Homo sapiens: one gene and its partners. Each later gene encodes a partner of the first gene's protein in a complex. Each region holds a gene or a part of one and is shown in the gene's direction. Other genes may lie near its edges.

What was found.
Region 2: TBP (region 1) and TAF4 share a complex: the UniProt entries of both Homo sapiens proteins name them as parts of the TFIID basal transcription factor complex.
Region 3: TBP (region 1) and TAF1B share a complex: the UniProt entries of both Homo sapiens proteins name them as parts of the transcription factor SL1/TIF-IB complex.

What each region holds. Positions count from the first base shown.
Region 1 is NC_000006.12:170,557,369-170,561,019, forward strand, and holds part of TBP (TATA-box-binding protein), read left to right. Parts: intron 1-3,651. UniProt on the Homo sapiens protein: The TFIID basal transcription factor complex plays a major role in the initiation of RNA polymerase II (Pol II)-dependent transcription.
Region 2 is NC_000020.11:61,999,771-62,003,421, reverse strand, and holds part of TAF4 (transcription initiation factor TFIID subunit 4), read left to right. Parts: intron 1-147; coding exon 148-262; intron 263-793; exon of another isoform or gene 794-1,608; coding exon of another isoform or gene 1,609-2,275; intron 2,276-2,502; coding exon of another isoform or gene 2,503-2,675; exon of another isoform or gene 2,676-2,694; intron 2,695-2,700; coding exon 2,701-2,870; intron 2,871-3,167; coding exon 3,168-3,298; intron 3,299-3,651. Other genes in the region: uncharacterized protein LOC105372704, read left to right, coding at 1,609-2,275, 2,503-2,675. UniProt on the Homo sapiens protein: The TFIID basal transcription factor complex plays a major role in the initiation of RNA polymerase II (Pol II)-dependent transcription.
Region 3 is NC_000002.12:9,909,459-9,913,109, forward strand, and holds part of TAF1B (TATA box-binding protein-associated factor RNA polymerase I subunit B), read left to right. Parts: intron 1-1,277; coding exon 1,278-1,455; intron 1,456-2,052; coding exon 2,053-2,099; intron 2,100-3,651. UniProt on the Homo sapiens protein: Component of RNA polymerase I core factor complex that acts as a GTF2B/TFIIB-like factor and plays a key role in multiple steps during transcription initiation such as pre-initiation complex (PIC) assembly and postpolymerase recruitment events in polymerase I (Pol I) transcription.

The sequences.
Region 1 (3,651 bases):
CCCTCACCAAATTATTTTCTAGTTTTATTTTTCCCCTTTTACATTTCAAGCTCTCAACCACCCATCTACTTTAAAAATTTTTCAGCCTGGGTGCAGTGGCTCACGCCTGTAATCCCAGCACTTTGGGAGGCCAAGGTGGGCGGATCACCTGAGGTCAGGAGTTCGAGACCAGCCTGGCCAACGTGGTGAAACCTCATCTCTACAAAATATACAAAAATTAGCCAGGTGTTGTGGCGGGTGCCTGTAATCCCAGCTACTCGGGAGGCTGAGGCAAGGAGAATTGCTTGAACCCGGGAGGTGGAGGTTGCAGTGAGCAGAGGTCGTGCCACTGCACTCCAGCCTGGGAGACAGAGCGAGACTCTGTCTCAAAAAAAAAAAAAAAAAAAAAAAAATCAATAACTTTTGTTGAAATATACATACAAAAAAACTCATTTTAAGTGTCTGTTTTGATAATTATATATAATGTATAAATTACAGAACATTTCAGTTACCTTAAAAAGTCCCTTCTTCCCCTTTATAGTCACTCTGCTGGCCCCAGGTAACTACTGCATCTGCTTTTCAATGCTGAAGATTAGTTTTGTCTATTCTAGAATTTCATATAGATGGAATCAGAGTGTATGCTTTTTTGTGTATGTCTGACTTCTTAGCCCAGTGTACTGTTTGTATATCAGTAGTTAATCCATTGTATAGCTAAGTATCACTCCATTGTTTGGATGTTCCACAGTTCATCCATTCTCCAGTTGCTCACATTTGGGGTCTTTCCAGTTTGGAGCTATTGCGAATAAAAGCACTGTAAACATTTGTGTAGACTTTGAATGCACTGTTTTTACTTCTCATGGGTAAATACTTAGGAGTAGGATTGCTAGGTCCTATATTGGTATATGTATAACTTTATAAGAAACTGCCAAACTGTTTTTTGAAGTGGCTGTATTGTTTTGCAGCATAAGAGATTTAAGTTGCTCCACATCCTCACCAACACTTTCTGCTGTCAGTCTTTTTACTTTCACTCTAGTGATTGCTTAGTAGTATCTTATTGTGGTTTTGATTTTTATTTGCCTGATTACTAATGTTTCTGAGCACCTTGGCAAGTGCTTGTCAGCCACTCATACACAGGCCCACCTCACTTTACTGCACTTCACTTTACTGCATGTTTGACAAATTGAAGGTTGTGGTAAACCTGTACCCAGCAAGTCTGTTGGCATTATTTTTCCAAAAGTGTGTACTCACTTCATGTCTTGGGGTTAGATTTTGGTAATTTTTGCAGGATTTCAAACTTTTTCATTATTATCCGTTATTGTTATCAAACTTTTTTTTTTCTTTTTTTTTGTATTTTTTTTTTAATTTTTTTTTTCAGTCACTCTGTTGCCCAGGCTGGAGTGCAGTGGTGCAGTCTTGGCTCACTGCAAACTCCATCTCCCGTGTTCAAGCGATTCTCCTGCCTCAGCCTCCCAAGTAGCTGGGATTACAGGCATGCGCCACCACACCCAGCTAAATTTTGTATTTTTAGTGGAGACGGAGTTTCACCATGCTGGTGTCAAACTACTGGCTGCAAGTGATCCATCCGCCTTGGCCTCCCAAAGTGTTGGGATTACAGGCATGAGCCACTGTGCCTAGTCAAACCTTTTCATTATTATCTGTTATTGTGATCAGTGATCTTTGATGTTACTATTGTAATTATTATTGAATGCCATAAACTGCACCTGTATAATACAGGAACTTAATTGATAAATGTCTGCAGCGTGACCAACCATTCCCCCATCTCTCTCCCTCTGCTTGGTCTTCCCTATTCCTTGAGACACAACAATATGGAAATTAGGCTAATTAATAACCTTACAGTGACTTTTAATTAAGTGTTCAGATGAAGGGAAGAGCTGCACATCTCTCATTTGAAACCAAAAGCTATAAATGATTATACTTAGTGAAGAAGGCATGTTGAAAGCTGAGACAGGCTAAAAGCTAGGCCTCTTGCACCAAATAGTTAGCCAAGTTGTGAATGCAAGGGAAAAGTTCTTAAAGGAAATTAGAAGTGCTACTCCAGTAAACCCACAAGTGATAAGAAAGCAAAACAGCCTTATTGCTTATATGGAGAAAGTTTGAATGGTCTGGATAGAAGATCATACCACCCACACATCCCCTTAAGCCAAAGTGTAATACAGAGCAAGGCCTTAACTCTCTTCAATTCTGTAAAGGCTGAGAGCGGAGAGGAAGCTGTAGAAGAAAGTTTTGAAACTAGCAGAGGTTTATTCAGAGCTTTAAGGAGAGAGGCCTTCTCCACAACATAAAAATGCAACATGAAGCAGCAAGTTATCTGGAAGATCTAGCTGAGATAATTGATGAAGGTGACTATACTAAATAATAGATTTTTAATGTAGATGAAACAGCCTTCTACTGGAAGAAGATGCTATCTAGGACTTTTATAGCTAGAGAGGAGAAATCAGTGCCTAGCCTCAAAGCTTCAGAGGACTGGCTGACTAGTTAGGGGCTAATAGAGCTGGTGAGTTTAAATTGAAGCCAATGCTCATGTTCTGCTCTAAAACCATAGAGCCTTAAGAATTACGCTAAATCTACTCTGCCTGTCCTCAGTAAACAGAACAACAAAACCTGATGAGAGCACGTCTGTTTACAGCATGATTTACTGGATATTTTAAGCTCTTTGAGATCTGCTCAGAAAAAAAGTTTAATTTCAAAATATTACTCACTGACAGTGTAACTAGTTGTCCACAAGCTCTGATGGAGAAGAACAAGGAGATTAATATTGTTTTCATGCCTGCTTAAATAATATATCCATTCTTCAGCCCATGGATCAAGGAGTAATTTCAACTTTCAATTCTTACTATTTAAGAAATACAGCAGGGCATGGTGGCTCATGCTTGTAATCTCAGTACTTTGGGAGGCCAAGGTGGAAGGATCACTCAAAGCTAGGAGCTCAAGACCAACCTGGGTAACAAAACAAGTCCCTGTTGCTACAAAAAAAAATTTTTTTTTAATTAGCTGGTCATGGTGGCATGTGCCTGTAGTCCCAGCTACTTGGGAGGCTGAGGCGGGAGGGTCACTTGAGTCCAGAAGTTAAAGGCTACAATGGAGACCCTGTCTCAAAGAAAGGAAGCAGGGAGGGACATATGCTGTAGCTGCCATAGATAGTGATTCCTCTGATGAATCTGGGCAAAGTGAATTGAAAACCTTCTGAAAAAGATTCACCATTCTAGATGCCATTAAGAATGTTCATGATTCATGGGAGGAGGGTGAAATATCAACATGAATAAGAGTTTGGAAGAGGTTGATTCCAACCCTCGTGGATGACTTTGAGAGGTTCTAGACTTCAGTGCTGGAAGTTACTGCAGGTGTAGTGGAAATAGCAAGTGAACTAGAATTAGAAGTGAACCTGAAGATGTGACTGAATTGCTGCAATTTTTTGATAAAACCTGAACAGATGAGGAGTTGCTTCTTGTGAGTAAGCAAAGAAAGTGGTTTCTTGAGATAGAATTGACTCCTGGTGAAGAACTGATGACTTTAGAATATTACATAAACTTAGTTGATAAAGCAGCAGCAGGGTTTGAGAGGATTGACTCCAATTTTGAAATAAGTTCTAGTGTGGGTAAAATGCTGTCAAATAGTATCATATGCTACAGAGACATCTTCAGTGAAAGGAAG
Region 2 (3,651 bases), on another chromosome or scaffold:
TTAGAGTTATTAATATGAAGTTTTTGGAAACTTTCTTGTAGCTAATTAGGAGAGTGGTAGCTGTGCCCTTGAGCCTGTAAAGCACCAAAGCACATAGTTGATCTAATAAAAGCCTTGTGTGGTTTCCACTGTGTGTTTGTTTTGTAGTCCCTGTGGTGAAACCCGCCGTGTTACCTGGAACCAAAGCCCTTTCTGCTGTCTCGGCACAAGCAGCTGCTGCACAGAAAAATAAACTCAAGGAGCCTGGGGGAGGTTCGTTTCGGTAAGGAATGGGCCTGTGTACGTTGGAGAAGCGTGGCCAGAGCGGAGAAGAGTCCAGAGTCCGTGCTGCTCCATTCCCGCCCACGGGTCTTTCCCACGTGGCCCTGGCGGCCGGGGCTCCAAGGCTCCTGCTTCACGCTCACTTTGACCTCACGTTCACACAAGTGTGTTTTCCCATACAGTTGGCTCAAAGAGGTTTTGCTTCATACACATAGCCAGAAAGCGAATCAACTGATTATTTTTATATGAACTAATAGGAAATTCATTTTTTAGTATAACATCGTATTTTGAGTTCATTGCATTCCTAGTATAGAATGCTTCACTTTCCATGTATTCAACTTCAGAACCCTCAGAAATGCTGTACTGCTCCAGGCGTAGTGGCTCACGCTTACAGTGCCAGCACTACAGGAGGCTGAAGTGGGAGAATCGCTTGAGCCCGGGAGTTTGAGACCAGCCTGCACAACATAGTAAAACCTTACTCAACAACAACAAAAAATAAAAAATTAGCCAGGCTTGGTGGTGTGTGCCTGTGGGCCTAGCTACTTGGGAGGCTGAGGCAGGAGGATCACTTCTGCCCAGGAGTTCAGTGTTACAGTGAGCTATGGTTTTAGCAGTGTACGCCAGCGTCGGTGACAGAGTGAGGCCCTGTTTCTAGAAAAATAACTGCTGTGCTTTGCCTGGGCCTCCTGGAAAGCAGGTGGTCTGAGCATCACCTCAGTCAGGGAGGTGCTTATGGGACCTGAGCAGTGGGAGAGTCTTGGAGTGATCTCTGTTGTGATCAAGGGGCGGTGGAGTTGTGTGTATTTCAGGAAGTCTTACTGTGAATTTTCCCTTTCCCAGACACTTCATCCCTAAAGGCATCAGGCAGGGCATAGCAGGCCTGGGGAGTGGCTGTGGCCTGAGCCAGAGTCCCAGCCCAAGCAGGGAGAGGTGGCCAGCATGCCTGGGCCCAGCGTGACGCTGATACTTCAGTGAGAAGGGAGGGCACTTAGGGACATACACGGGTGAAAGAATTAATCAAGGCTGCAGGAAGCCTTGGTATTTTGCTGTCAAGGAGTCAGCGGCCTGGCAGAAGGGATAAAGGAGAGTGACCCCTGTGGGCTGGCTCAGGATTGGAATGCTGACGCAAACCCCTGGGTTTCAGTGTGTCGGCAGGCATGGATAACCATGGGTCTTGCCGTAAGTTTCTAGCTTTGTTCACCGCAGGGTCCTGGGAACAGTAACGCCCCAGTAACACTGAGCACACCTAGTGTTCAGATGTTGTCTTCTAAAAACCGTTTTCCACTAAAATGACAAGGACTCCTGAGAGAAAAGGCTGATTGCGGGACTGGGATAAGGAAATACAAGATGAGCGGAGACCGTCCTGTGTCAGAGAGCAGTGGACATGGGCATGACGTGGACGTGGATGTCAGCAGAGCAGCCTCCCTCCCATGGCCGGGTCCTTCAGCTGGAGCCCTAAGCTGTGCAGCCCAGCCACAGCCCGTGACCACCAGGGATGCCAAGACCCTGAGTGAGCACCTGGAGCCCATAGGAGGACTGGGCATGAGAACTGCTGTAGAGCTCTTCCCCGAGACACAACGACCCCAGGAGACGCCAGGCAGGCCCCCGGCCTCACGTTCAAAGCCCACTGCTGGAGGCGGCAAGTGGAGGCTGCGTGCATGTGGAATTCCCGGCAGGACTCTTAGCTCACATCTCCTCACGAGGGGGCCGAAGTCAGCCTGGAAGAGGACGTCCTGCACACAGCTGGCCTGTGCCTTCCAGGTGTCAGGGGCAGCCCAGGAGTCAGGAGAGGCTGAGGAACCTTCCAGCTTGAGGAGCCGGACAAGACGTGGCAGCTGGGATTGGGATGCAGACTGTCCTGCAGGGAGAGGCGCTGCTGGGACCGGGTCCTACGGGGGAGGGCCTGGGGAGGGGCCATTCATCATGGCCCGGTCTCAATGGCATCCTGCTTCTGGAGGGGATGCCCTTGTCTGTAGGAAACACGTGCAGAATGTTCCGGGTGGAGGAAAGTCAGGTTAGCAACTTTCAGGTGATTCAGGAAAAAATTGTGCGTACTCTTCTTCCAACTTCTGAGCCTTTAAAAAGAATTTAATGCTGCCTCTGGCTTTAAAAAGCTTTGCATAGATCAGACCCCCACAAGTCCCCGCGCTGCTCCCGGCTTTGCTTTCTCTGGACTTGAGTCCCCTGCGCATCTGTGTGTAGATGTTAACCCGGCGCCAACTCACAGCTCTCCTTCCGCAGAACAATCGAGCTTTCCAGGAAAGCAGCGAGGCACCCTCTCTGCTGTGGCAGATGCAGCAGGTGCAGGTGCGGGGAGGACAGAGGCCTGGCCTCCTCACGGCCCTGCCTTCCACGTGGGGTTTCCTGCCCTTACCACCCCAGCCCACCTCCCGATGAATTCCTTGTACAGTTAAAGTGATCTTCCCTTCTTTCCTCAAGGGACGATGATGACATTAATGATGTTGCATCGATGGCTGGAGTAAACTTGTCAGAAGAAAGTGCAAGAATATTAGCCACGAACTCTGAATTGGTGGGCACGCTAACGCGGTCCTGTAAAGATGAAACCTTCCTCCTCCAAGCGCCTTTGCAGAGAAGAATATTAGAAATAGGTACGTTGGTGTTTAATGACTGAGTTCTTATTAAACAGCTGCGCTGCTGGGGCATGGGAGCTTCAGGTGAGCACACCTGACACCTGGTCATGTGTTTTGTCTGAGTTTGTGATTTCCACATGGTTGCTGGTGGTGGTTCTTGGGTAAAATATGGGTACCACTGCCTTCCACCCCACCAGCCTTTCTGGGCTCCCCTTGGGTTGTATAAAAGCAGTAACTGCTGGATCAGAGATTAGCCGTAAAGAAAGAACTGTGCTTAATGATTTTAAAATACTGTTTTTCTTGCCTGACCTTTAGGTAAAAAACATGGTATAACGGAATTACATCCAGATGTAGTAAGTTATGTATCACATGCCACGCAACAAAGGCTACAGAATCTTGTAGAGAAAATATCAGAAACAGCTCAGCAGAAGAACTTTTCTTACAAGGTAACAGGCTGTTTGCCGAGGAGAGCGTCTTTATGTTGTTGGCCCCCACTCTCTGCTGGCTGGGAGCCTCCTCCCCACACCGAGGCAGAGGGCGGTGGGTCCCAAGTGCCTCCATGTTCCTTACGAACGTGTTTTGGATTTCTTATAGGACTAGATTTTGGAAAGATTTCTTTTTGAGGTAGGGTCTCACTCTGTTGCCCAGGCTGGAGTTCAGTGGCGCAGTCTTGGCTCACTGCAGCCTCCGCCTCGTGGGTTCAAGCGATTCTTGTGCCTTCGCCTCCCAAGTAGCTGGGATTACAGGCGCACACCACCGTGCCCAACTAATTTTTGTATTTTTAATAAAAGGGACAGGG
Region 3 (3,651 bases), on another chromosome or scaffold:
TCTAGGCAAAGGGGCAAAAGTAGCTGTGCAAAGCAGAGAGGCAAGTGAGAATATGGCTTGTTTGGGGGAACTATGGAGATTAGGCTGGGAGCTAAAAGCTTTAGTGAGTTCATGAGAGCAGGGGAATACGATGATTGGGCCACAGGAGAGTAAGACTAGAGAAAGGGAGAGCAGTTATAAGGGTGGCCTAAGGAGCAACAGTGACGGGAAGAAAGGGGATGGATTGGAAAGCAGTCAGCACTGATCCAAGTGCCTTAGGTATATTCATTAATTTAGTCTTCACAACAGCTATGAAGCAGGTACTATTCTTATTCCTATTTTAGATAGATTGTTTAAAAACTGAGGCACAGAAAGGTTGTATAACATGTCCACGGTCACAGAGCTAGTAAGTGATGGAGCAGGGACTCTAGTCCAGGCAGTTTGGTTCCATAGTCTATTCTCAACCATGGTACTATATGCCACATTGAGAGAATGGAATTAACAGGACATGGTGACTGAATGCATGTAGAAGATTCAGTTCAGTTCCATGCAAGCTCATTATCTCTTATAAAAAATGGCTGTCATACTTGAAATTGTGTGGTCACAGCTTACATACTTAGATTGGGAAGTACAGAAATTTTTTGTTTAGTTTTCAAAGTCTATTCACTTGAACATAACCTCAATTTATTCTCATTATAACCCATTTTACAAGTGAAGAAACTGAGGCTAAGTGACTCTGATCCAAGAGTCACAAAGCTAGTGATTGGAAAGCTTAAATATAGGTCCTAGGTTTTCTGGTTCCAAGTCCCACATTATTCAGTCTTGAGTAATAGGTGTAGTCTATGCTGAACATATAATTTCTTTAGGAAAGCAATATATCTAGTTAAACAGTTGTTGAGGGCTTCCAGTGTGCTAGCCAGGATGCCAGCCAGTGCACATACATTGCTAGAGAAGCTTTTGGTCTCATAAGGGAGTTAGTTTTAGGTGAGCAAACACTGCTATAGAAACACAGACAAGAGATGTGGATGAAACAACTGGTATGTGGCTGCCAGATGCCAGGATGTGTCCTAGAAATAGTAGATGTTTTAGGAAGTCGGAATAGGGAATGATACGCCGTTTTAAGATTCTACCATTCATTTTTCTATATGGATGCCATGTTTTGATGTTTTATTCACAAAATGTGGGTCTCTGAGTTCTTGCATAGTGTCGTGTTTTAAGATAAAGGTTATTTTATGGATATATACATTGGGGATGGTCTAGTTGGCAAATAATTTACATTTTACTGTTTTGTTCTTCAGATGAAATGCATAGCTTAACTTGCCACGTGGTAAAAATGACTGGAATGGGAGAAGTGGATTTTCTGACATTTGATCCTATAGCTAAAATGGCAAAAACTGTTAAGTACGATGTACAAGCTGTAGCTATCATTGTGGTGGTATTGAAACTGCTCTTTCTATTGGATGACAGTTTCGAGTGGTAAGTGTACGTCAATTTTATGACAAGTAACATTTTATGGTGCTGATCTTAGTTTTTTAAGAAAGCTTTAAATGTCATGAAGACACTTTAAAAAAAGAGCTAAAGAAAAAATTTGTACTGTATTTACCTAATTATATGTTATCTCAAAAAATGGAGACTCTCAATTGTTACAGAACATTGACTAGTAGTCACAATTATTTCTTACACAGTACTTTGACTCAGCTGGTTGTCAGTTGTTTGATCATGTTTTATACCTGTTATTCTTTAGGTAGCAATGTTCCTCATTGCTCCACTGATTTCCTAGTTTTAAAGTATCTTCATAAATCTCTATCTATATCCCTTTAGGCTCCTGGCAATATGTGTTCTCAAAGATTATTTTAGAAAGTAAAGGAATCTTAATATGTCACCCCTCCCAGATGCCAACAAAGAGTGACAGTATTTATAGTGTCTCCTCCTCTGTTTCAGTGATTGCTTCTCCATTAAAACATGGTATCAATTTCAAATACTGTTCTACACTTTTCTCTCAGAAGAATTCAGAATTTATCTTTCCAAATACATGACTTCTAAATAAATTGATTTGTTTATTGTTATCTCCAGGTCTTTGTCTAATCTTGCTGAAAAGCATAATGAAAAGAACAAAAAAGGTATTTTAATTTTTTATCATTCAAATTCAAAGTGGTTATAGATGATAGATTAAAAGATGGAATAAATGTAGGCAAACAACTTTGAAAAATACACATATACACATAAACACATGTATACAAATTGTATATTGTACCAGTATTGTTTTTTCATATAATTACCTACTTGTATCTCTAGGGTACTAAAAAATATCAGTGAGTCCGTATTATATGTAAGACCAGGCTGCTTTGTATTCCCAACTTCTACTCACCAGCCATGCTAGATCATGAATTTACAGGCAGCTTTGTGACCATCCTGTCGATTCTGATGCTTTCAGCCTTTGCTCTTGTTGGTCCCTCTATCTGAAATGCTCTTTCCTTCTTACCCCAACTCCTGTTCAGTCCCTGGCAAATGCCTCTTTATTCTTGAAGATGCAGCATAAACACCACTCTTCTGTCTGGTCTTCACACCTATCCACTTCACAATGCTTCACCTCTTCCCAAATCAGAACTAATAACTCCTGCCGCAGTCACTCTTGTTCAGACTTTTGCTAGATGTTTAGTGCCTTGAGGTCTAACTAATGGCCTAAGTACGTCTGTCCCTATTAGATTGCCAATATTTGTAAAGTGCTTAGAAGAGTATCTGGCATCTAATAAGTACTTTATAAGTGATAGACAGATAGACAAGTGAAGTGTGAGCTTCTGGAGGGAGGGATCATATCTTTTTTTTTTTTTCTTTTAATGTATCTTTAGTGCCTAACATAGTGACTAGCCTAAGAGCAACTCAGTGAAGTGTGGTGAATATGTGGATTATTAAATTCAATTCCAGTTTCTTAATGTTCTGTTCTCATTAGGATTTATGTTCATTGGTTTTAGAGGCTTGAATTTATTGGAAGCAATCAGTTTGTGTGTTCTTTCCAGAATATGTGCAAAATAAAATACTACTTTCTGTACATTGCTCATGTTGGCTTCTATGTAGAGTGAAAGGTTGAACTAGCTGTCTTCTAACATCCCCTCTAATGCTAAAAGATGATAATTTACTACGTAGACATGTAGAATAAACAGAGCGCTTTGACCTGTCTCCCTGTAAGCCTCAAAATAAATCCATGCTGTCAGCAGGGCAAAGATCACTGTCATTTCTCTCTGCTCTGTCTGCTAATCACCATCCCCTGCCCCCAGCATTATTGATGGGGAGATTGAGGTTTAGAAAAGTTGTGATTTACTCCAGGTCCAAGAACCGTGAGTTCTATTGATTACTATAGTTTTCCTCTGTTCTTACAGTTCTTTCGGTAGTTTCCTCTCTTCTGTGGCTGTATGGTCTACAAGGTCATATTGGATTAAACAATTATCATATTGACCAGTTGAAAAGATTTTTAGTTAGGCATGGAAAGAGACTGCCTTCGCCAGAGAATAATGGAGAATAATCCCTGTATGGAGTGAAAGAGTGAGGAGTGAGTTTTTATACTTTACTGCATTCAGTTCTGTTGTCTCTCTAATGTCTACATCTTGATCACACACTCACACCAACTGCCCAGTGCAGTCAATTAATGAAAACTCAGATGAACAATGTATATTA